Linked DNA regions of Homo sapiens. The protein of the gene in region 3 interacts with the protein of the main gene of each other region in a pairwise test. Each region holds a gene or a part of one and is shown on either strand. Other genes may lie near its edges.

Evidence for each region. Proteins that work in one complex are often made in the same cells at the same time.
Region 1: the proteins of BOD1 (region 3) and PCSK2 interact in binary tests that used the Homo sapiens proteins (3 or more experiments, as listed by UniProt).
Region 2: the proteins of BOD1 (region 3) and TPH1 interact in binary tests that used the Homo sapiens proteins (3 or more experiments, as listed by UniProt).

What each region holds. Positions count from the first base shown.
Region 1 is NC_000020.11:17,481,015-17,485,900, reverse strand, and holds the end of PCSK2 (neuroendocrine convertase 2 isoform 1 preproprotein), read right to left. Parts: intron 4,318-4,886; coding exon 3,831-4,317; 3' UTR 1,323-3,830; downstream 1-1,322. UniProt on the Homo sapiens protein: Serine endopeptidase which is involved in the processing of hormone and other protein precursors at sites comprised of pairs of basic amino acid residues. Responsible for the release of glucagon from proglucagon in pancreatic A cells.
Region 2 is NC_000011.10:18,035,448-18,044,294, reverse strand, and holds part of TPH1 (tryptophan 5-hydroxylase 1), read left to right. Parts: intron 1-3,506; 5' UTR 3,507-3,532; coding exon 3,533-3,649; intron 3,650-8,152; coding exon 8,153-8,336; intron 8,337-8,847. UniProt on the Homo sapiens protein: Oxidizes L-tryptophan to 5-hydroxy-l-tryptophan in the rate-determining step of serotonin biosynthesis.
Region 3 is NC_000005.10:173,605,292-173,614,138, reverse strand, and holds the end of BOD1 (biorientation of chromosomes in cell division protein 1), read left to right. Parts: intron 1-883; coding exon 884-1,008; exon of another isoform or gene 1,009-1,012; intron 1,013-4,468; exon of another isoform or gene 4,469-4,561; intron 4,562-4,704; coding exon 4,705-4,900; 3' UTR 4,901-4,901; intron 4,902-5,846; coding exon of another isoform or gene 5,847-5,874; 3' UTR 5,875-6,994; downstream 6,995-8,847. UniProt on the Homo sapiens protein: Required for proper chromosome biorientation through the detection or correction of syntelic attachments in mitotic spindles.

The DNA.
Region 1 (4,886 bases), on a different chromosome or scaffold from region 3:
TTTTTAGTAACAGACTCTGTTTATATTTATTTATTTTTGGGACAGTGTCTTGCTCTTCACCTAGGTTGGAGTGCAGTGGTGTGATCACGGCTCACTGCAGCTTCTACCTCCTGAGCTGAAGCTATCCTCCCACCTCAGCCTCCTGAGTAGCTGATACTACAGGCACATGCCACCATGCCCGGCTAAGATTTTAATAATTGAGTTTAAGTGTTATATCAGAGGACAGAATTATAAATTGTTTTTATAATTAACTTTGGTAAATATAGTATATTAATATTTTATGAATAATTATTAAGGTCTTTTTCTAGAATAGTCTGTGGTCTATGGGGTAAGGTACAGCCAGTTTGTAATAATGTTCATGGTACCATCCATGAAGAGTGATTGCCATGTTAAATCGGTTCTTAAGAACATGTTTTAAGGGAATGTCAAGCACTCTCTGTAGTGGAGACTCTAATGCTCACCAAATATTCCCTTAGTTGTCACAGATTTCCCAGTTGCTTTGCATTTAGCCAGGGCTATTGCCCAATACTGGCCAGTGGGCAATGGGCAGAAGCGATGCATGTGTCTCCTTCAGGCTAAACATAGAAGAGCAGATGAATGTCCTCCTTGGGTTCTCTTCTGCATGGTGATTGTAGCAGCCTTGTGCTATGATTACAAACCATACGGTGAAACAGCCTGGATCCTGAGTCACTGCATGGAGGTCTGTGGCTTTGGGGAGTCACCTGAACCTTCACTGGAATTTGTGTGGATGATAAATAAACCTTTGTTGTATTAAACCACTGAGATTTTGAGATTGTCTGTTACTATAGCATAACTTAGTCTAGCCTGATTAATATATTTTAGAATAGTGTTTCTAAAAGATTTTTGACCATCACTCACAATGAAAAATGTATTTTACATTGTGATCCAGTACACACACTCAGACACACACACGTGTGCACACACACATCTGAAACAAATATTTCAGGAAACAATACTTATCCTTATTATGCATGATTATTCTATTCTATTCTATTCTATTCTATTCTATTCTATCCTATCCTATCCTGTGATTTTCTTCTCTCCTACTGTATTCTAAATTACTCTATTTTATTAAAAACTGACCTCCTAAATTGATTTTACAACCCACTAATGGATGTAACTAGAGTTTGAAAAATACTGCTGTAGATAATAATTTGTGTATGATTTATATGTTAATTATAAGTCTTTTATGCATACTTAGTAAAGCAGGCTCTTTAGATCTCTCTTTGGCAATTTTTAAATTATCTGTTCCTAGAATGGATGAAAGTATTTTCATGTACAATATAGCACATCTCACATAATTTCTGGAGCATAATGTTTTATTGTTGAGCCTCCTAATTTACAACATGTCTTTTGAAATTTGCTTATAAAATTTTGTCACAGGGAGCAACAATGTTAACCTAATTATTATTCACTTATTTTCATTTTTTAAAATAAATGACTATAAATAACTGTCTCTTCAGTTAGGATCAGGGATATCATAAAAACATCACTAGCGAGACATATTTTAGTATTAATACTGATGCAAAAAATGAAATAGAGACCAAATATTTATATATATAGCACTATATATATTTTTATATATTGTATACTCATATCAAAACTTGCCATTTCTCTTAAGTAGCTGATAAGTTGCTTTCTAATTTTATAAATTACACCACACCTGTGAAAATATGGACAACTATTTTATATTTTTGCTGCTATATAAGACATTTAATGTTTATACAGAGAGCTGAAAAATTACAGAGGTGATGCAATGGGAATTGATGAACATTTTCACCTGAATTTCCACTGGCCTTTTTCAGCCAGAATCATCTTGATATTCTCTGAATATTCTTTTAGAAATGAGTATGGTATCTGTTTCTTCAATAAATACACATACACACATTATAGGTATATGTGTATATACATTTATACAAGTGTATGTATATATACACATATATACACACATGTATATAGTCTACATATGTATATATATTTCTGTGTGCACTTATACACACATGCACACATAATGTCCTTTGGTTTATTTTTAGACCATTAATGTGAAATGAATTTTCGATGATTTCCATTTATTTTTTCTTGAAATCTAAACTGGTTTAAAAAGACCTTTGCAACAAGTAATAAATTTCTTTTAAAAAATCATATTATTACACTTTAAAGCATGATATAGAGAAGGTCACAAGGTGTTAGAGAAGACAGAAATCCATGCCAATATGGGAGAAAAGAAAGCAAATGGGGTTTTCAGATTTCTCTCTTAAAGTGGCCACCTTCAGGGAATTGAACCTAGTGCTCTGTGTTGCTGGCTTGAAGGAAAGGTGCTCCAGGCTAAGCTCTCTGCTCCCACAGGAAGGGAGATGGTGCCTGGAGAGGCTGAAGACAAAGCATTTCTTGGGAATGGATGTGCATTGGGACTGGGGATGAGAAGCAATCTCTGGGTAGGTCACTTTGGTAATGTCTAGTTGGGAATGGAGTGGTGACTTTTGGGATTGACCATAACCTTCGGGTTGCATGTTAAATGGTCTCAGGGACTGCTTAGTTGCCGAGAAGGTGACTGTGTGCTTTCCTCACAGAGGTCTTCTCTCACCTCCTTCAGGCCTCAGGTTCCTCTGGGATGAATTGCATGGCCCTCTCTTGGCAGAAGAGGCTCCATACAACTGGAGAACTATGTGAAGATAGCGCTCGCATCTTCAAACGTGCCCCTTTCACCTCCCATGACTCTTCCGGGACAGAGGCCTTTTTCCCAACACATTAATGACATCAAACTGTGGGGGAGTATGAGATTTCTCTTCCATTATATTACTTGGAAATCAAAGCCCACATCTGTGTGTGTAAAGCTGTAAAAAAAAAAAAATACTCCTGTCGCCTCTCACTCAGATCAGATTGAGACACCTCAAAGTGACTTAGGAAAAGGGACATTCTTGTTTGAAAAGCTAGTAAACTACTCTTCACCAGGTGTGTTGCCAGGCTTGTCTTAATTTTTTTTCTCTTTTGGGTAGCTATGTGAGGAGCCCCAGAAAATTGGGGCTGGGATGAACTCTATACAAACTGAGAAAAATTTGGGCTGCTCTAGCGGATTTTAACATAACTCAGAGCAGCAGCTGGTGAGAGCACAGCCACGCTCTGTAAGTTTTATATTTGCCACGCCGGCTGAGTAGAGTGAATTATCTTGGCATTGGTAGTAAAATATCCAGCACTCATGCTTCCTGGATCTCTTTCCCCATGCAGTAACTAGGGCTCTCTATGAATGGCATCTTTTGAATCACATCACCTTAATCTACATCCCTGGTAAATCTCACTAAATTCAAAACATCGCTCCCCAAAGGATTTATAGCACAGTGTCTCCTGTGCTTTCAGAGATGTGGCGCTCACACCCTGTCCTCAGCTTTGATTTTCTTGTTATGTAACAGCCCCTTGTTTGAGACCATGGACAATTGTTCTTGGAGTCACTCTATGTGGCTTTTAAAATACGTTCTTTTCTCAGAAACAAAAAAAAAAATGAGGGGAAAGCTGTCCCAGTTTTTTTTTTTTTTTTTTTTTCAGGATATCACCCATTTGAATGACAGAAATAAAGAATTTAGAGTCACACATAGGACATGGATGTTGTTGGGAACGCTATATTTGGGGCATAGAGTAAAAAAGATTGTTTCCATTGTAATGAAAATAATCATTGACAGTGAGTGAAGCTTCAGATTAAGAAGACGGAATTGCCTGTACGGGTGATGGAATTGCTAGGTGCCTGCCTGAAACGTGGAGCGAGGACAGAGGCGGAGCTGGGGAGGGAGGGCGGTGGGAAAGGCGGATGTGCAGCGCTAGTTCTTGTTAAGGATGCTTTTCAGGCTTCTCTCCACGGCTTCGTCCAGCTCTTCCTCCAGCTCCTCTTTCTTGGACATGGCCAACTTGGACTGGTAATCCCGCACCACCTGGTCGATGTACGGGGCACTCTGAGTGCCATGCAGCATCAGGGTCCACTCCTTCAGCACCCCCTTCTGCGGGGCGCTGCCGACAAATCCCAGCTCCAGGGTCCAGGTGCCTCGGGCGTCTTCCCCCCACGTGTGAGTGGTCATGAAAGGCCACTTGTCAAAGCCCACCTTGGAGTCGTCATCCCTTGGACGCCGGCTCAGCAAAATGGACTTGGTGCCCATAGGGGAAGTCATGTTGATGTTCAGGTCTCCTCTTCTGGTTGCGTTGACCGTGATGACAGCCTGGACATGCTCCAGGTAGCGGACAAAATTTTCCTTCCCCTCACAGGCGTCGGTTGTGAGTGTCAGCACCAACTTGCCAGTGGATGGTATTTTCCTGAGGGCAGAGTGAAGAGGAGATAGGATAAGCAGTGGTGGGTGCACCTTACAAGGGATTTTGAGGGCAGCTTCAGGTGGCGGAAAGGGCAAGGGCTTTGGGGTTGATCAATCAGACCTGGGTTTAGTTCCCACACTGGCTGTGTGAGCCTGAGTAAGTTACTTATCTCTTTTTTTTTTTTTTTTTTTTTTTTTTGTCTTTTGAGACAGGGTCCCACTCTGTTGCCCGGGCTGGAGTGCAGTGGTGTGATCTCAGCTCACTGCAACCTTCAGCTCCTGGGTTCAAGTGATTCTCATGCCTCAGCCTCCCCAGTAGCCAGGGTTACAGGCATGTGCCACCACGCCTGGCTAATTTTTTGTATTTTTAGTAGAGACGGAGTTTCACCATGTTGGCCAGGCTGGTCTTGAACTCCTGGCCTCAAGTGATCCAGCTGCCTTGGCCTCCCAAAGTGCTGGGATTACAGGTGTGAGCCACCACGCCCGGCTGTGAGCAAGTTACTTACGCTTGGAACCTTCTGTGTGGAAGGAGAATGTAGTAGATGCTGTGATGTCCCTCCTGAGTCTCCTAAG
Region 2 (8,847 bases), on a different chromosome or scaffold from region 3:
GCCCGCCACCACACCCAGCCAATTTTTGTATTTTTAGTAGAGACGGGGTTTCACCATGTTGGCCAGGATGGTCTCGCTCTCTTGACCTCATGATTCGCCCGCCTCGGCCTCCTAAAGTGCTGGGAATTACAGGTGTGAGCCACTTACATCTTAATATAATAATGTATGTCTTTAAATACATCAAAATAATATAAATGCCTTGCATATCATAAATTTCAATTAATGTATCCTTCACCCTCCTCTCCCCACACCAACTAAGGAGATGTTGGCACAAAACTTGATCCATTCCAGAATCAGGTAAAGAAAATAATTATGAACCCTAAAGGGATGGAGCCATGACTGTTAGCACCTTCTCACAATAGCAACTTCCAGGAAAGCTTAGGGACCAGTTTTGAAAATTGAAGGAAATTCTCTTTTTTTTTTTTTTAAGAGACAGGGTTTCACTCTGTCACCCAGGCTGGACTGCAGTGGCGCGATCATGGATCACTGCAGCCTAGAACTCCTGAGCTCAAGCAAGCCTCCTGCCTCAGCCTCCCTAGTAGCTGGGACTGCAGGTGAAAGCCACTATGCCCAGCTAACTTAAACAATTTTTTTTGTTGTTGTTGTTCATACAGCATCTCACTATGTTACCCAGGCTCTTCATAATAGTTTTTGTTGTTGTTGTTGTTTGTTTGTTTTTGTTTTTGTTTTTTGAGACGGAGTCTCACTCTACTGCCCTGCCAGAGTGCAGCGACACGATCTTGCTCCCTGCAACCTCTGCCTCCTGAGTTCAAACGATTTTCATGCCTCAGCCTCCCGAGTAGCTGGGATTACATGCATGTGTCATCATGCCAGGCTAATTTTTGTATTTTTAGTAGAGACGGGGTTTCACCATGTTGGCCAGGCTGGTCTTCAACTCCTGACCTCAAGTGATCCACCCACTTTGGCTTTCCAATGTGCTGGGATTACAGGCATGAGCCGCAGCAGCTGGCCTCATATAGTTTTATATGAAGAGTTTTATTCCAAGCTCCAAGAGGTTGTTGAAAGACAAATTATCAGGAGATCTAGAATTCTGTTAGTGTTACCACTGACTGGAAAAAATCAGTGGTAACTTTTCTTTACTGTTCTCTGATCCTTGCTCCCAGTTCTTAAAGCTGATTTACATGATGAAGCTAGTGGTTGGCCAGGAAATAGCTTATATTTGCAGAATCCTCTTCCTTCTGCATGTCATGGTGATGGTATCAGGAAACATGAGGACTCAGTAACTATAGGGTAACTCAGTACATTTTACTTTGGGGTCTTTGTCTATTTGTTTGCAAAAAAACTGCTGAATTATTTTCTTGAGATTTGGAATTTAATACACTTTAGGGGTTTTATAATAAATTAATGAAACTGAAATCACCTTGATACAAAACAATACTGACATTTTATATCATAAAGCAACTTTTCCACATGTTTGCTATTGTAAGAAATATGTTAACCATCTTGTAAAATGCCTAATTCCTAGGGCAAGAAAAATTCTTAGCCAGAGGTATTTAGAATGTCTATTTCATTACTTGAACATTTTCTCTTTTTTTGAAAACTGGAAAATTTGGGACATATTCCCCATTACTTGAGATAATACTTATTGAGTACTTAGTGTAGGTTAGCAACTGTTCTAAGAGTTTTATGTAAATTATAACTATTTAATTCTCATAAGTTTATATATGTTTAATCCTCCTTATAATCATGAGAGTGGTGTTAATTATCCTCCCTCCAAGTTTGCAAATAAAGAGGTTGATACATATAAAGATTATAACTTGCCTAGATGGATTTGCAGAAAGATTTATTACTAGCAATTTGTTATATTATTTTGCATCTCTTTTATTGTTTACATTTTCACGCTTTAGGACAACGTCGCCCATACTCTGTGTTTGATAAGAAAAGTCAATCTTTGAGTGGTAATTGAATGGGTAAGAAACGTTTCTGAAAGTTTTCACATCCCTAAAAACATTTTGAGAATGCTTATCTGAGGCCATCCCTGAATTTTTAGCCCCAGAGCCACCAATTTGGAATTTTCTGTGTATACTTAAGTTTACCTTAAGAAATGGTCACTTCCTTTGAAGTGGAAAATCTCTTAAGATCTCCTGCTTCTCATCCATAAATCCTTTCTCAGCAGAGACTCATGGATGGGCTAGAAGCTATATTCAGTCATCTTTAGAAGCACATGGGATATTGATCAAAGGGGTGGGGTGGTGGGAAGGTGAGGGGTGGTTGAGTGTACTCCTTGGGTGTCATGGCTGGGATCTCAGTGTCCCTTCTTTTCTGCTTATTTGTACTTATTGAGAAGTCTGTCTTCCATTTTCTCCTTCCCCATGAACAAGTGTGTGAATTATTTGGAGGCAAGTTGTCTTGTTTTTAAATTTTTACTGCCCTAACTTTGACTGTGGTGCTTCACACATGTGAATGCGCTTGGGTTGAAATTTTATTCGTTTTACCATTAGTAATTATTTGAATCAAAGAAAAATCCACATAATTATTCAGTTTAACTGGCCATTTAGTTTTATAGCATTTGAAATAGAAATTGTTTTTAGTTCTAGAGACTAATTTGGCATAATTTAAAAATCTTGGTAGTTTTGGAAACTTGAACCCAATGAATTCATAAATGTTAGTTAAATTTTGAATTATGTATCTCTAACTCTTCTTGGTACCTGAAATATCCTAGTTTCTTCCGTGAGGAAAATCTCAGAATAGCACGCCATGTTATGATGTTTTAAAACGAGTGAGAATTTTGGATGTTATGAGTTCTGGTAGCTGTTTGGTAACTTAGTTTTATATTAGAAAGGTTAAGTAGCATGCCCGAGGTCATACACTGATAAACATGAGGCCAATGATTAGATATGTCTGACTTCACATTCCACATATTTCCTTACACTGTTTTGCAGTGTAAATAGGTGGTTAAGAAGATACCAAAGTAGATCTCTGGTTCATCTTCTGAGAAGCAGAACTAGAATTCTCCTGGCTAGCAGTTATCCATCTAGTGCATATGTATCTAGAGCTGGCCAGGCCTTTAGTTTACAAAATAAATAGAAAGCCTTGTCCCCACTCTGGAGGAGCTTGCTGCCTTGTTAGAAGGTGAGATATGTTCGAATAGAACATTTGGGGAAACCATTTGAGACCTGGTATAATGAAGTGCTAAGATTGTGGGCAAGGTGGGGAGGAGGTAGGCCTTCCTGACTAGTTTAGGCTACAATAGTTGGGAAGACTGCAAGAAGCCAGCAGGCTTCAGTCATGCCCTAAAAGAGCGATTGGTTTAGAAAAAAAACAAAAGGGAACTACTAACATGTATTCTATTCTAGGCAGGTGTCAGGCAAAGTTGTATCTTATTTTGGTCTCACTAGATTCTTGCAAAGCTTATCTGCATATCCAGGTTTTATAAAAGGTTAAGAAACTGAAGCTCCTAGAAGTAAATGAGCCCTTAGTTATCAAATATTGTCTGCATTGTGCAACTTCTTTTTTAGCCCGTAGTCTTTGTTTTCATACTTTAGTTTTAGAGAATTACTCCAAATTCATCATGATTGAAGACAATAAGGAGAACAAAGACCATTCCTTAGAAAGGGGAAGAGCAAGTCTCATTTTTTCCTTAAAGAATGAAGTTGGAGGACTTATAAAAGCCCTGAAAATCTTTCAGGTAAGCATTTTCTGTATTTTTGCACAGAATTCTTCTAGAAATGAATCTCTAAAACTATATTTAAAATATAGGGCAACATAGCAAGACCCTATCTCTTAAAAAAAAACAAATTTAGCTGGGTGTGGTGGTGGACTCCTGTAGTTCCAGCTACCTGGGAGGCTGGGGTGGGAGGATTGCTTCAGTCCGGGAGTCCAGGGTTACAGTGAGTGAGCTATGATCACACCACTGCACTCTAGCCTAGGTATCAGAGTGAGATTTTCTCTCTATATATATATCTATATTTATATATAGATAAAATATATAAATATATAATTTTTATATATTATATATATAAATTATTGTAAACTCTTCAGAGATGGAGTACAAACATTTGTTAAGAACTTACATTTCTAAAATAGTGCTGAATTCTAACAAGGGATACAAACAATTTACAGAAGAGGAGATACAAATAGCTACTTCGAGAAATGGGGGAGAAAAGATTCACTTTATAGATTTTAGAGAAGCAAATTTTAATTTTATTTTAATAAAATATTAAAATTTTATCAATATATAATCATATATTATTAATTATATACTTGAGATTTAATGATATAGTCATAGTATATTTAATGATATTATTTTCATGTAGCAAAGATTCTATAATGACAGTGTCTCCTATTGTCAGAACTTCATTGCATTGGAGGTACATTACCCTCCAATGCACCTTTGGCACAAGGATAAATTTGTGTACCATGTAGGGAAACTATCTGGTAATATGTATTATGAGCCTTAAAATGTTCATATTTTTGACCCATAATTCTAATTTCATAAATCTGTCTTAAAAATATGGATCAGTCAGGCAGAACACGAATATTTATTGAGTCCTTACTATGTGTCAGGTACCACACCAGACACTAAGGATGTGGAGCTGGACAAAGTAAACACAGTGCCTGTCCTCACAGAGTATGTAATCTAGTGGGGAAGGCAACATTAAACAAACAACTGCAGTAAGTGAATAATCACTATGTGTAAAGTGACATGAAACAGAAATACCAGATATTCTGACAGCATTGAACTTGGGGGACCTAACTGAGTTTAAGGGCTCAGGGACACACAAAGATTTATTGTTTATAGGAACTAAAAATTATAAATAAGCCACTTGTCCTAATATAGGGGATGTTGAATTGTGATAGCAGAACACCACTGTGGTTAAGCTCTGGTCTCCAGAGACAGGCCACCTGGATTCATATCCTTGCTCTGTCAGTTATTACCTGGGTGATCGTGGGCAAATTGATTAATCTCTCCACACTTCATGATTTATGTCCATAAAATGAGAACTCTACCTACCTCATAGGGTCATTGTGAGCATTAGTAGAGTTAATATCTCTAAAATGCTTAGGATGGTACAGTACAAAGTAAGTGAACAATAGATGTTAGCTATGTTAATAATCATATGACATACTATTATATAGCTGTTTGCAAAGAATATTTCAAAGAATTAAAAATCTTAAATATAGATAGTCTAGAAGAGCTTGTAATGAAAAGCATCAGTTTTCTTACCTAACACATACCATATTCTCAGTCCCACTCCCTAGAGGCAACCTCTTTTAACTATTTCTGGTCGTTAGTTTTTTTGGTGGTGAGTTTATGAAATCTAAACATTGCTCTTATATGTCTTTTCAAGTTATCAACTTCACACTATATTCATTTACTTTCTATTATGAACAATGATACTGATACCACCTCCCTCCCTTCCCTCTCCCAGTCCTTCCAAATCTGATACTTTTATTATTACTTTTAGCTATTCTATTGATTACCTTTGGGTCTTTAAATAAAATACCTGTATGTCTTCTTCCATCAGCTTTTTTTAAATTTAATTTTTAATCGAAGAATAATTGTGCATAGCTTAAAAACAACTCAACCTGTACTATAAAACATATTTTTAAAAAAGTAGTGTTTTGCTCCATCTCTCTTCATTCCAAAGTTCCATTTAATTTTTTTGCAACCTTGTGTGCAGAAGCTTGAGTTAATCACACTCATTAAATCACGTGTACACTATCATCGTTGATTTGTGCAACCTCTTCCTGTTTTATTTCATTCTTGAATTCTATCTCCATTTCTCTCTTCTGATAGAGAGCTGCTCTCATGTTTGATATGTACATTGAATTACTTTGTCTGCACTTTAGAATATGTAGTCTTTGTGTGTGCGTATATTAGTAATTTATATAATCATATTGTGCTATAAAGATTCTTTTTCCCATCCAGCACTGTGTTTTTAAGACCTATGCACGCTGCTGTGTGAACATCTCATTCATTCTTCTAACTGCTACATGGTGTTCTCTGGGTGTGTCTCCACCTGCCTAGTGGAGACAACCTAGTTATCCCCTGCCTAGTGGAGGCAACCATTTTCAACTCTTTAAACTATTTTTCTAATATTTACTTCCACACTTATAAGTTATATGCTTATTCTGCTTCTACTTCTTGATTTCTAGAATTATAGGTAATTATCTATTGATTTTCAACAATGAAGTAAAAATTTAGGTTTCTTGACACAACTCCCCTTCCGATGGCCTCTTCAACTTCTTTTCCACTCGTCTTCCCAATGTATTTGTGTCCCGGTTTTTGGCTCTGTCAATCTTTAGTGTCTTTATTATTAAGATTATGTAAATATTGTTTGAAGAAGAGCCTTAGTATCCACCTTTGTGACTCTTCCTTTCTTGGGCAACAGGATTACAGCATAGTGTTTAAGCACATGGACTGTGGAGCTGGACAGACTAGATTTGAATTCCGGCTCTGACACTTGTCACCTGTGTGCTTCTGGCCAAACTGCTTAACCTCTCTATGCCTCTGTTTCTGTAACTGAAATGTCTGATAGGGAATGTTTCACTTACTACTTCTACTTTATCTGAATTTTCCAGACCGTATTTTTCTTCCAGATGAACTTGGAAATTATTTAATTACATTTCCTCACCAAATTCCATTGAGATTTTAATTTAGGAATGATTGACATTTTTGCATCTTTTTTTTTCTCCAAAGACATAGTTTAGCTTTATATTTATTCAAGTCATCATTTAGAAAATATTTACAAATGCATTATTAATGTAAAAATTTATAAGAAATAGATGAAATGAAACTCTTCTTTACACCTGATCAATCCCAATATATTTTGTAACTGACTTCTATTGATTCTGTGATAAATTATATGTTCCCAGATAAACCCTGCCTATTCTAATTTTCTAACATCCTCTATCACTCACTCCTCTTTCTTGTTAGCTCATGTTCCCTGATAATATTTTTTTTTTTTTTTTTGAGAAAGGGTCTCACTTTGTCACCCAGGCTGGAGTGCAGTGGCACAATCACAGCTCACTGTAGCCTTAACCTCCTGGTCTCAAGTGACCCTCCCACCTCAGTATCCCGAGTAGCTGGGACTACTGGTGTGCGCCACTACGCCTGGCTAATTTATTATTTTTTGTAGAGACAGGGTCTTGCTATGTGGTCCAGGCTGGTCCTGAACTCCTGGGCTCAAGTGATTCTTCCACCTTGGCCTCCCAGAGTGTTGGAATTACAGGCGTGAGCCACCACGCCTGGCCTATTCTATCTATTCTTTAAGATTCATTTAAGTTCCCACCTGCTCCATGAAACTTTCTACTCTCTCTTAAGTCGTAATGCTTTTCCCTTTGCTGAGCACCTGCATCCGAACACTCTTTACTTTATTTTCTTAATCTTCCATGTGTTCACCAACTAGATTCTAAATTCCTTTATGTCTTCCCTTTATATTCTTCGCAGCCCTTACCTAGTTACACAGGTGTTCATTAAGTTATTTTAGGATGCACTGGTTAGTATTGGAGATTATCTGCTCTAACCTTCTCATTGTTTTAGATGAAAAAACTATAGGGTGATTAGTGCTCATGTTTCATTATCATGTCCCCAGCACTCTTCCTCAGCTACCCAAATTGGTAAGAGAACATACCCTCCTCCCACACTTATACACAGAGCACCCCCATCTTAGGCTGACTTGGGAGAGGTCAGAAGAGGAGATCTGGTTCAGCTGTTACTAAGATTGTAGCTTAAGAGATTTGAGGTATTAAATACTCTGTGCTCAAGCTGTTCATCTAATTTAATTAAATGGATTTTTGAAAGGGAAACTCTTCTTTCTCCAGGACTAACATTGGTATCACTTTTTGAAAACTAGCTTTTATTTATGAGAATTTTCAAAAGATTCCTCTTACCCAGGAAACTTAATAATATTTTGATTTGAATTCTGATTAATTCTGACATCTGAAGGACCTCTAGTGTGTGTTATTTTATTGGTTTCTGGAGGATGGGATGAATTTTGAAAAGTTTTCTAATACATAATTTTTAAGAAGGAATTATTTTGTTGTTGGCAGCACTAAAAACAGTCTTTTTCCCTTTGCTGTTCTGAGAAGTGTGAATCTGATTTTTAGTGGTAATTAAAGTAGCCTGCTCAAAGACTATTAACATTTGAGGCAGTTACATGAAATCTTTTCCCTGTGCTTTACACAGGAGAAGCATGTGAATCTGTTACATATCGAGTCCCGAAAATCAAAAAGAAGAAACTCAGAATTTGAGATTTTTGTTGACTGTGACATCAACAGAGAACAATTGAATGATATTTTTCATCTGCTGAAGTCTCATACCAATGTTCTCTCTGTGAATCTACCAGATAATTTTACTTTGAAGGAAGATGGTAAGTTCAAAATGTGAAAATACTACTTAGAAGATGAAACACCTAATGTGTGTCCAGCCTTATATTTATCTTGAAGACATTAAAATAATAAAACACAAGCTCTCCAAATTGCTTACAGTCTGATAGTGAAGGGAACACAAAATATAGTTGCTCCAGATACCAAAGAAAAATTATAAAGCAACATTTGATCAAGTGTAAGAGAAATGAAAAAGAAAATCTTGAGTATAAGAAACAGCTGGGTGTGGTGGCTCATGCCTGTAATCCCCGCACTTTGGCAAGCCGAGGCAGACTCACTTGAGTCCAGGAGTTCAGGACCATCCTGGGCAACATGGAGAGACCCAGTCTGTGCAAAAAATACAAAAACTAGCCAGGTGTGGTGGCATGCATCTATGGTCCCAGCTACTCTGGAGGCTGAGGTGGGAGGATCACCTGAGCCCAGGAGGTTGAGGCTGTAGAGCTGAGCCGAGATTGTACCACTGCACTCCCGTTTGGGTGACAGAACAAGACCCTG
Region 3 (8,847 bases):
TGGAACCAGATATTCCCCATTCGTTCTGTCTTTCATCTCTGTTGATATCTGTTTTACTGTTGGTTCAGAGTGGAGTCATCCATTTGGTTACTAGTATCTCTTGATTACATTTTACAGCTTCTTCCTCTAGAGAGAGGCTGTCAGCTCCAATCTGGGAAATCCCAGGGAATGTCTGCATTGTCTTAGCGTGGCTCAGGCACCCACTCCTGTGGCACCCTCTGCCCTACCCTTGTGAAGAGAGGAAGACAGTTACTAGAAAGAAGGCGTTACTAGGCAGATAGCACATGGTATCTGTGAATTTTACTCCTCTGCCCCCATTTCCTTGCCTTTCTCTTTTCCAGGTTTAGTGGAGTCTTTGAGTTTGCTCTCTCAACCTTTTGGAAGAGGCCAGTCATGGAATTGAGGCCTGCTGGTTCCTTTGTCAACTTCATTTCCCTGACTGTTAGCAAACTTTGCCGCAGTAATGCTGCATAGCAAACTGAATCTCAGCAGCTTATAACCAGCACTTGTTCACATGTTCATGGGGCGGCAGGTCTACCAAAGTTCAGCTGAGCTAGGAAGGCTTCAGCTGGTGGCTTGGCTGCAGGCTGCCCAGGTGTGGGTCCAGGCTGTGGGTTGATGTCAGGCCTGCTGCATGTAGAGTTACTTAAAAGCAAATGGAATAATATAAGTAAAGCGCCTGGCATTGTGCCCACCCACCATCAGGTGGGCACTTGTGTTAACCATTAATTCCTGACTGCCACATTGCATGGTGATCTTCATGCACAGTGGAAGTGTATTTAGACTTAATAACGTTTCTGTGAAAAGCAGTGTTCTGAGAGACTAAGTTCAAAACTTTGGTGCATATAACTTCTGACCTTGCCTCCTCTTTTTAACATTTTAGCCAGCTTACCAAAACCTGAGGCAGAAAGTGGATAATTTTGTGTCAACACATCTGGACAAGCAGGAATGGAATCCTACGATGAACAAAAACCAGTTGCGAAATGGTCTGAGGCAGAGTGTGGTTCAGTAAGTAAGCAGAATTTAAAGCTTTTGAAAAGGCAGTCATCACAAGTGTGATGCACAAGAAGGTTGAGGTCTCTGTTTAGTCAAGGTTGATGGGACTTTATATCAAGTATCACTTAGGAGTTGCAGCAGTCTGCTCTTTTGTTATAATTAAGGTTAAAGGAAGCAAAGTACTCAGTTGAAATTCCAGTTTCTGCAGCCTGTGAAGGCCTCCTGTGTGCATCTCTACTGGGTGCATCAAAAGGCATTCCAAATCGTGAGACATTTTCCCTGCTCTTTGAAGTTTCAGTGTTGTCCAAACATATATGTGAGTTTTATACCAAGATATCAGGGTTTGGATCTTGGGCAAGAGGAGTTGGATCTTTATTCTCACAGGTGAATGTGAACTAAATAAATTCTTTGAGTCCACCAGGACTGCCACCTCTAAAGTGTAATGGTGACAGCTTTCAGGAAGGCATAGTCTTAATAAAGTATCGTACTTCACAGTAACAAACTGAACCTTAGTTAATAAAGGTGCTATTGATAGCTTATCTGAGTGACGCACAAAAGTGGAGGTGGAGGAGGGTACAGAAATGGGAGAACACATTAGTGATTGCCTGGGGTTACGGATGGGAGGAGGGGGTGAGTGTGACTTGCAAGTGGTAGCACAAGGGGGAGCTTGCAATGGTGCAGTTAAGTGTCACTGAATTGTGCTGTGCTCACGTGCAACAGCTCGTATGGTAAAGTCGCACGGAGCTACACACACAAATAAGTGCAAGTGTAACTGAAGTCTAAATAAGGTCTGGATTGGACCAGTGTCATTTTCCTGGTTTTGATATTGCACTAGTTACGCAAGGTGCTGACATTAGAGCTGGCTGGGTGAAGGGTGCGTGTGGAACTCCCTGGACTCTTCTTCACAACTTCCTGTGAATATGCAGCGATTTTAAGATTTCTAAAGTTTTTAAAAGTGTTTTACTAACAAGCTAGTACTTCCAATATGGCTGAATGCTGGGAAGAAGCCTGATAGCAGAAGATGCCCAGTGCCTTGTCATTCTGGAGTCAGTACCGAGTGCCTTTCCCTTTCTCCAGAGAACAGACTGGTGGCACCGGGCTCTTTCAGAAAGAAGGGGACAGTAGCTGCCCCTTACTGAGCAACTCTTTATTACATGTCTGGCACTGGTCTTTACATATATCACTCATCCTCATGAAAAGCCTGTTTCACAGCTAAAGTCACTTGTGTTTACCCTGTCTTGAGTAAATCAAAACACTGAACATTCTGAAATATTTGGAAAGTTGCCATGATTGTATGAAGGCTGTTAACATTGCTTTGATTTCTGTAATGAGCATGGATGTCATTCTAGAGGTATGCATGTGGCGCTTCCTCTTGCATTTCTTTAGTAGGAATTGTAATACGGAAAAGTGCACAGAAGTTCAGTGAAACAGATAATTAGAACATCCCTTGATCACCCAGATCGAGAAATGGACTCACACCCCCGAAACAGCCTAGCTCCGGATGTACTTTCCTCCTTTCGGAAGTTTTCCATATTCCTGACTTTTATACTAATCATTTCCTCTCTGCATAGTTTTTACCACCTCTGTGAAGTTGTTGTTTTTTTTTTTTTCCCTGCTTTTTGATTTGACTTAGAATGTGTTTAACCTGAAAACATGAACTTGGCTTTAATACTGGGACATTTCTCCACAATTCTTGCTAGCATTTTGAATTTGAGGCAAAATCTACTGGAGTTTCGAAACGCAGACTTTCTGCTTGCCCCCAGGTGCTCTCCCCAGGTGGACACTGCAGGCCTTCAGAGCATTGGCTCACTGGCCTGGCTGTTCTGGCCCAGATGCTGTAACCCAGTGCCACAGCCTAGAGGGTTTAACAGGAAATTAGCCTGTGCTATTGCACTGAATTATGACGAATAACTCTTGTAACTGTACAATATTTGTTTTTTCCATCTTGTACATTGGGCTCCTGACAAGATTTTATGTTTTCCTCAAAAGTTTAAGAATCTCCAGGAAAGTGAGCTGCACTCCCTTGGTAGTTTGTTTCCCCTGATCAGGGGTTTTGGTCAGTTGGGGATGCTTTAACAAGGCGCCGTAGACTAGGTGGCTTGTAAACAATGGAAATTTACTTCTCACCATTCTGGAGGCTAGAAGTCCAAGACCAAGATGCCAGCATGGTCAGGTTCAGGGGAAGGCCTTCTTGCAGGCAGCAGACTGCCAACTGCTTGTTCTTCTCATGTGGTGGAAAGAGAGCTCGCTAACTTCCTGGGGTCCCTTTTGTAAGGGCATAAATTGCATTCGCGGAGGCTCTGCCCCCATGACCCGATCGCCTCCCAAAGGCCCTACCTCCAAAGGCCATCACATTAAGGATTAGATTTCAACATAGGAAGTCTGGGGGACACAGGCATTTAGTTGATAATATCAAGCTTTTACATCTGGTAAAGGACCCTGTGAATCCGACTCAGGAAGTGGTTTGGTAAAGTTGGAAAGGTATTGGCTTGTGACTGAGGAGAGGTGGCTTTCCTTTGTTAGCATCCCATAGCCGGATGCTAACTTTGCTGTATTTAACGATGCTCATCACTAAGGGCCGATACTGTCTAATGCCTGGTCTACCTGAAAATGTGCCCTTCAGTGCTCTAGTGGTGGTGTATTTACATCTAGGCTTCCTGTCGATAAGCTGTTAGTTACCATTGAATCCAGGGAGCACTTTACACACTAATCATCTTTCCCAGTTCACAGCCTGTTTCTTATCTTCTTTGTCATGATGTACATTTACTCATGTCTTTCCTTTGCTGTACCCTGACAGACCATTTGCCCACTTGCTGCCCAGCCTATTTTTACCCGAAGGCTTAAATGGCCTCTGAAGTCTCAAGTCTACGGGAAAATAAGTAAAACCTGCCCACATGCTTGTGATGGTATTGGAATATTTCAGTCCTTTGAGAAGAACACTTCACTTTGAACCTTACGGGCTATTTTCCAGACTGTCCAAATATGATTTGTTTCCTCTCACCATCATTTCCAGTACCCTGTCCCAAGTGTTTGAATATAGACATTGATATGCCCTGATTTTTGCTCTACTTCAGAAAGGATCGGGGATGTAATTTAGCCCTCTAGGAGCTTGGAACTAATTTGTTTGTCTATTTCTTGTTTGCTTCCAAGTTGCTTATTATGTGTTACAGGTAGCAACTACAGCTGAAGGCCATGGTGAATTGCTGGTGATGTAAATACTCCCAGCCCTGACTGATCGGCCTTGTTTAAATTTTAAGGATTAGTAAACAGGTTGCTGCTGGAGCTACTTCTGCTTAGGCTATTAGGAGAATAAATGTTGAAGGAAATGGAGTCCAATTCGGGGCTTACTGGCTTTGACAGTACGAGGAAGCTTTTCAGTGCCACACGTGTCAAACTCTTTCTCACCATGCTGTCATTTGTTTGTTGTTTTGGAGCAACTCACTTAGTTTTGTTTTTGATTCTTTTGTACAAGGTTGGGTGATTGTGGGTGAGATTGTGCAGTAGGAATAACAGCTGCTGGTTGAGAATTACCCCTCAAAAGTGAAAATAGCGTGAGCTGTATATGGTAAGTGGATTGACCTCTAAACTCCCTAGAAGGGCTGTAGCTTTGAAGGTGGACATTTATTGGGCTCGCACGTGACACTTATTGGGGCTAAAGATGAATCCCGAAGGAACTAAATAACAGAATGATCTGTTTGTCTCCACAAGGTCAGGGATGTTGGAAGCTGGAGTAGACAGGATTATTTCTCAGGTGGTGGATCCAAAACTTAACCACATCTTCAGGCCACAAATAGAACGAGCAATTCATGAGTTCCTGGCGGCCCAGAAAAAAGCAGCTGTGCCAGCACCCCCTCCAGAGCCCGAAGGCCAGGACCCTCCAGCTCCATCTCAGGACACTTCCTAAGGTCCAGTATCCTATCTTCTGTCCAGGAGTATGCATCTCTGGCTTGTAGATATGTAAAATGGATAGGAATGGGGTAGGCCGTAATTGAGGATCATTCAGGAAGTATTTACTGCAGATGGACTTCACCTACTGTTATAAGTCACTTTTTACTGAGAACTAATTAGTAGCAGTTTCCTGTGTCAGTGACTGATTTTCTGTTCCACCAGCGCTAAACATGTAAGCTATGGATAGATGCTTCATTAGAAATCAGCTGGGATGATTGGTGTGCATAAAGGGGATTCAAATGAAAGTCTTATTTTGCTGAAATGTTTAAATGAGTCTCTCCTGGACATGAGTTAACTTAGGCTTGCAATTTTATTTAAAATCAAGCAGTGCCTTCTGAAGTGATATCCTAAATGGGATTCAGAGTCTGCTTTGAGTGCGACTCGATTTCCATGAATTTAGAAGGAGTTTGTTTACCACTATCAATTACCATGGGATTCTTCTGTTAGGAACACTCCCCCTTTTTAAATTAAATTTGGAATTAAATGTAATTTTAAACAGCTGTAGATGTACAAAAGAATGCTTTTTGCAGGTTTTGGGAGACATTAGTAGGAGCAGCGATGAAGTTAGCAGTGGACTTTTCGCCGTTGTTGGTGACTGCTGGGATATGTTTTATCCCTTCATTCTGATTTGGTGTTCTTTTTAAGATTCTCTGAGATGCCTGTTATAATCAGTAAGTGAGGTGAATTGACTAGGGCGTTTTGAGTGTCAGTGATGAGCAACGCAAGAGCATCAGGACTGTCTTTTTGTTCCTCTATTGAGAGAAGCCCTTGAGTCCAATATGGAGTGTAAAACATTCATTTTAAGTCTTTCTTTTTAATTGTAAATTCCTTTAGGAACATAAAAGTGAATATAGTCTGTTATCAATAAATAACATTTTGATATGATTATCTTTCCTTTTTAGAATACGCCAGACACCTTTTGAAAGCTAATTTTTGGTGAAGAAATGGATTCGGTTACATAAGAGTGCAACTTCAGACTGAAGATAGGCCAAGGTCGTCACTGATCTCAAGATTTCAACCTTGACCATGGGCAGTGACCAGATTGAAAGGGGAGCAAGTTCGGCAGTGGGAGAGTTGACCGTGTCACCCCCTGCATTGTGCTGCCATTTGGCCAGCCTGTCCAAGGGCATGACACCAAGTAGACACTACAGAGAGAGAAACACTACAGCAACCCAGGGTTGTCCTGAAACAGACTTTTATACTTGAACATGGAGACTGCACATGGACTTTAGGGTTTGTGCTGTGGGATAAACGGAAGCTACAGTGAGAACATAGCCAGTCCCAAAGACAATTTCAAAGAAAAATGACAGTAAAGATTAGCTGGGAGTAGTCTTTGACAGTGCTTATTTGATACTGTCTCTCAGAGTTTGCAAACCAGATTGTACAAGTCATTAGCGTCAGATAGCTTTAAAGTTGTGACCTTCTTGTACATGAATCTTCTAGCCAGTTTCCTTTCCTTTGTAACGAAACATGAAATCCTAGAATGTATGAGAAGTTCAGACATTAGGCATAAGGAAACTCGTTTGCAGGCTCTCTGTCCAGGGCTGCTTCCTGTCCTGGAGGGGCCAGTGAGTCTTAGGTATGTTTATTTTATTCTCACATTTGTGTTTTTTTAGAAAAGTGAATGGTCAATAAATGGCTTATCTTTCATAATAAAATTATTTGATACTTTTACTCCGAAGCTTCAGCTGAAGCTTAAACCTCAGGTCTGTGAAGGGCAACCTTTGTCTTCTGCCTCTGTGCACCACACATGATCTACTGGCAGTGAAGATTGGTACATATAACTTGGAACTATGAAACTAGTAGGTGTAGCTAGTAGTGGGCTGTTTCTCTCCTCCCTGAGCCATTACTGACACTGGTCTTTAGTTGAGGTAGTCCGTGGTATGTGTCAGTGTTTGTCATCCTTGTGTGTGCAGAAGTAGCACCTGGGGATTTAAGGGAAAATGCATATTTCTGATTAAGAAGTTCTGGGGTGGGACCTAAGAGTGAGTGTTTCTGACAAGCTGCCAGGTGATGCTGATGCTGCCAGGCCTCTGAACATACTCTGTATAATAAGCCTTGGATAATATATCCAAGATTATGTCTAACTAAGTCTGTGGTTCTTGGTTGAGTCTACTACTGCATATTGCTGCTAATCTGATCAAAATTTTAACCAATTCAGTTGGTTCCCTGTTAAGACAAAGGCTCCACTTCCACCTTTACCATGAATACCCCTGTATGAGCACTGCAGTGCCATATTCAGCAAGATGCTTGGTAGCATGTGCCCTAATTTTAAAGCAAACTGGCCACACGTTTAAGGCAGGTGCCAGTTATATCTGACGTGTGGTCTGTTCCCACCTGGTAGGTGCAGTTCCATTTCAAGCTGCCTTACAGTTGCAGGAGTCAACAAAGTTCTTAACCCCAGAAAATGGACCCTCCACTCCTCTCTACTACTAGGCAGACAGGGAGTGGCCAGAATTAACCAGTCCTGTGCTTGCAGAAAAGCTGCTCAGACTAACTGGAGTGTCTCCTCTTCAGGACCACATAGCTTTAATGGGAAGTTCCTTCCCTGTGAGGCATCCTTCTGGGAGGGAGATCTCCACACAACTACTTTGTGTTGACCCTCCCAACATCTTGCCTATCCCGCACTGACCTCAACTAGCAACAAAGGGCAAAAGCCCAGAGAAGGCTTCACCCTTTCTGCCCCCAAATGCTCAATTAACTGCATTTTATATATGTTTTTGGCAGACAGTTTTTGGTTCATCTCAGTTCTCTTACTTTGCTGCTGCTTTTACTAGAGATGGCTGGACCAGTTGATGAGAAACACCCGAATTTTCACAGAATGTTAAATGTGCCACATACCAAAGAGTTTCTATTTTTTTTTAAATCATTCTGTTATATCCACCAAGATTCACCTAGATTCGAGATTATTTCATTTGAGAACGTGAGATTATAGAAGTAATTGGGCACATCGTTACTGTTGGGATGGACGGTGGACTTTTTGGCTCTTAGCAACACTGAAAGGGAAGACGTGCCTAGATTGGTTTGGGTAACCATATTCAGACTGGCACAGGAAGGCGAGTCAAGACAATAGCACTAGAAGGCTTAGGGGAAAGAAAGCCAGCCTCTTCCTCCTCAGGAACTGGTCACCAGGTAAGCCTCTTTGCATCCTCAACTGAGTTCTCATGTTTTAATTGGGTTCGTGATATAGAATCTAGAAAAATTGTGTATGTTCTGAGATCCTGAGGAAGACAAGACCACCACAAAATTCCACCTCTTAAACACACCCTTGCTTAATTCAGTCCTAAACAAATTAGCTGTCACTGACCTCAAGCCAGTTAGGCCTCTCTCTAGTTGGGAAAACTGCTGTTTGCAAAAGCCCAGTAAAACACAGTTAATACATGAACAAATATTACCAACACTTGCAAGCCGATTGCGGTCATGAGTGTCTTAAGAGCGCCATCGTGTACGGTGGGGGTCAGCCAAGGTGGGAAGAAGGGTATCATTTTGAAGCCCAGTTCTTTTGTCTCGGACGGCATCTGTGATTGCTGCTGGAGATTCTTGTTTCTGGCATGTTTCCAGTTACCAGCTTAGATATTTGATTGGTATTGCCAACTCGTCTCAACCCAGTCCTGATTGTTTTAACTTTTGGCCTTTAGTGAGGTTTGTGACTCCTATAGCAAAATTGAAGGAATGGTTTTATCCTGTTTCCATCATTTTGCTTTAGCCTCTATTTACTCATCAGGTGGGTGGAGGGTAAAGGTTTCTGTGCATTCTGTGTCACTCACTAGCACCGTGAACTGAATAAGTGCTAACAGATCCATTGCAACAGTGGTTCTGAACGTATAATCCCCAACCAGCAGTATCAGCATCACCCTGGGACTTGTTAGAAATGTGGCCCCCACCCCAGACTCGGAGATGTGG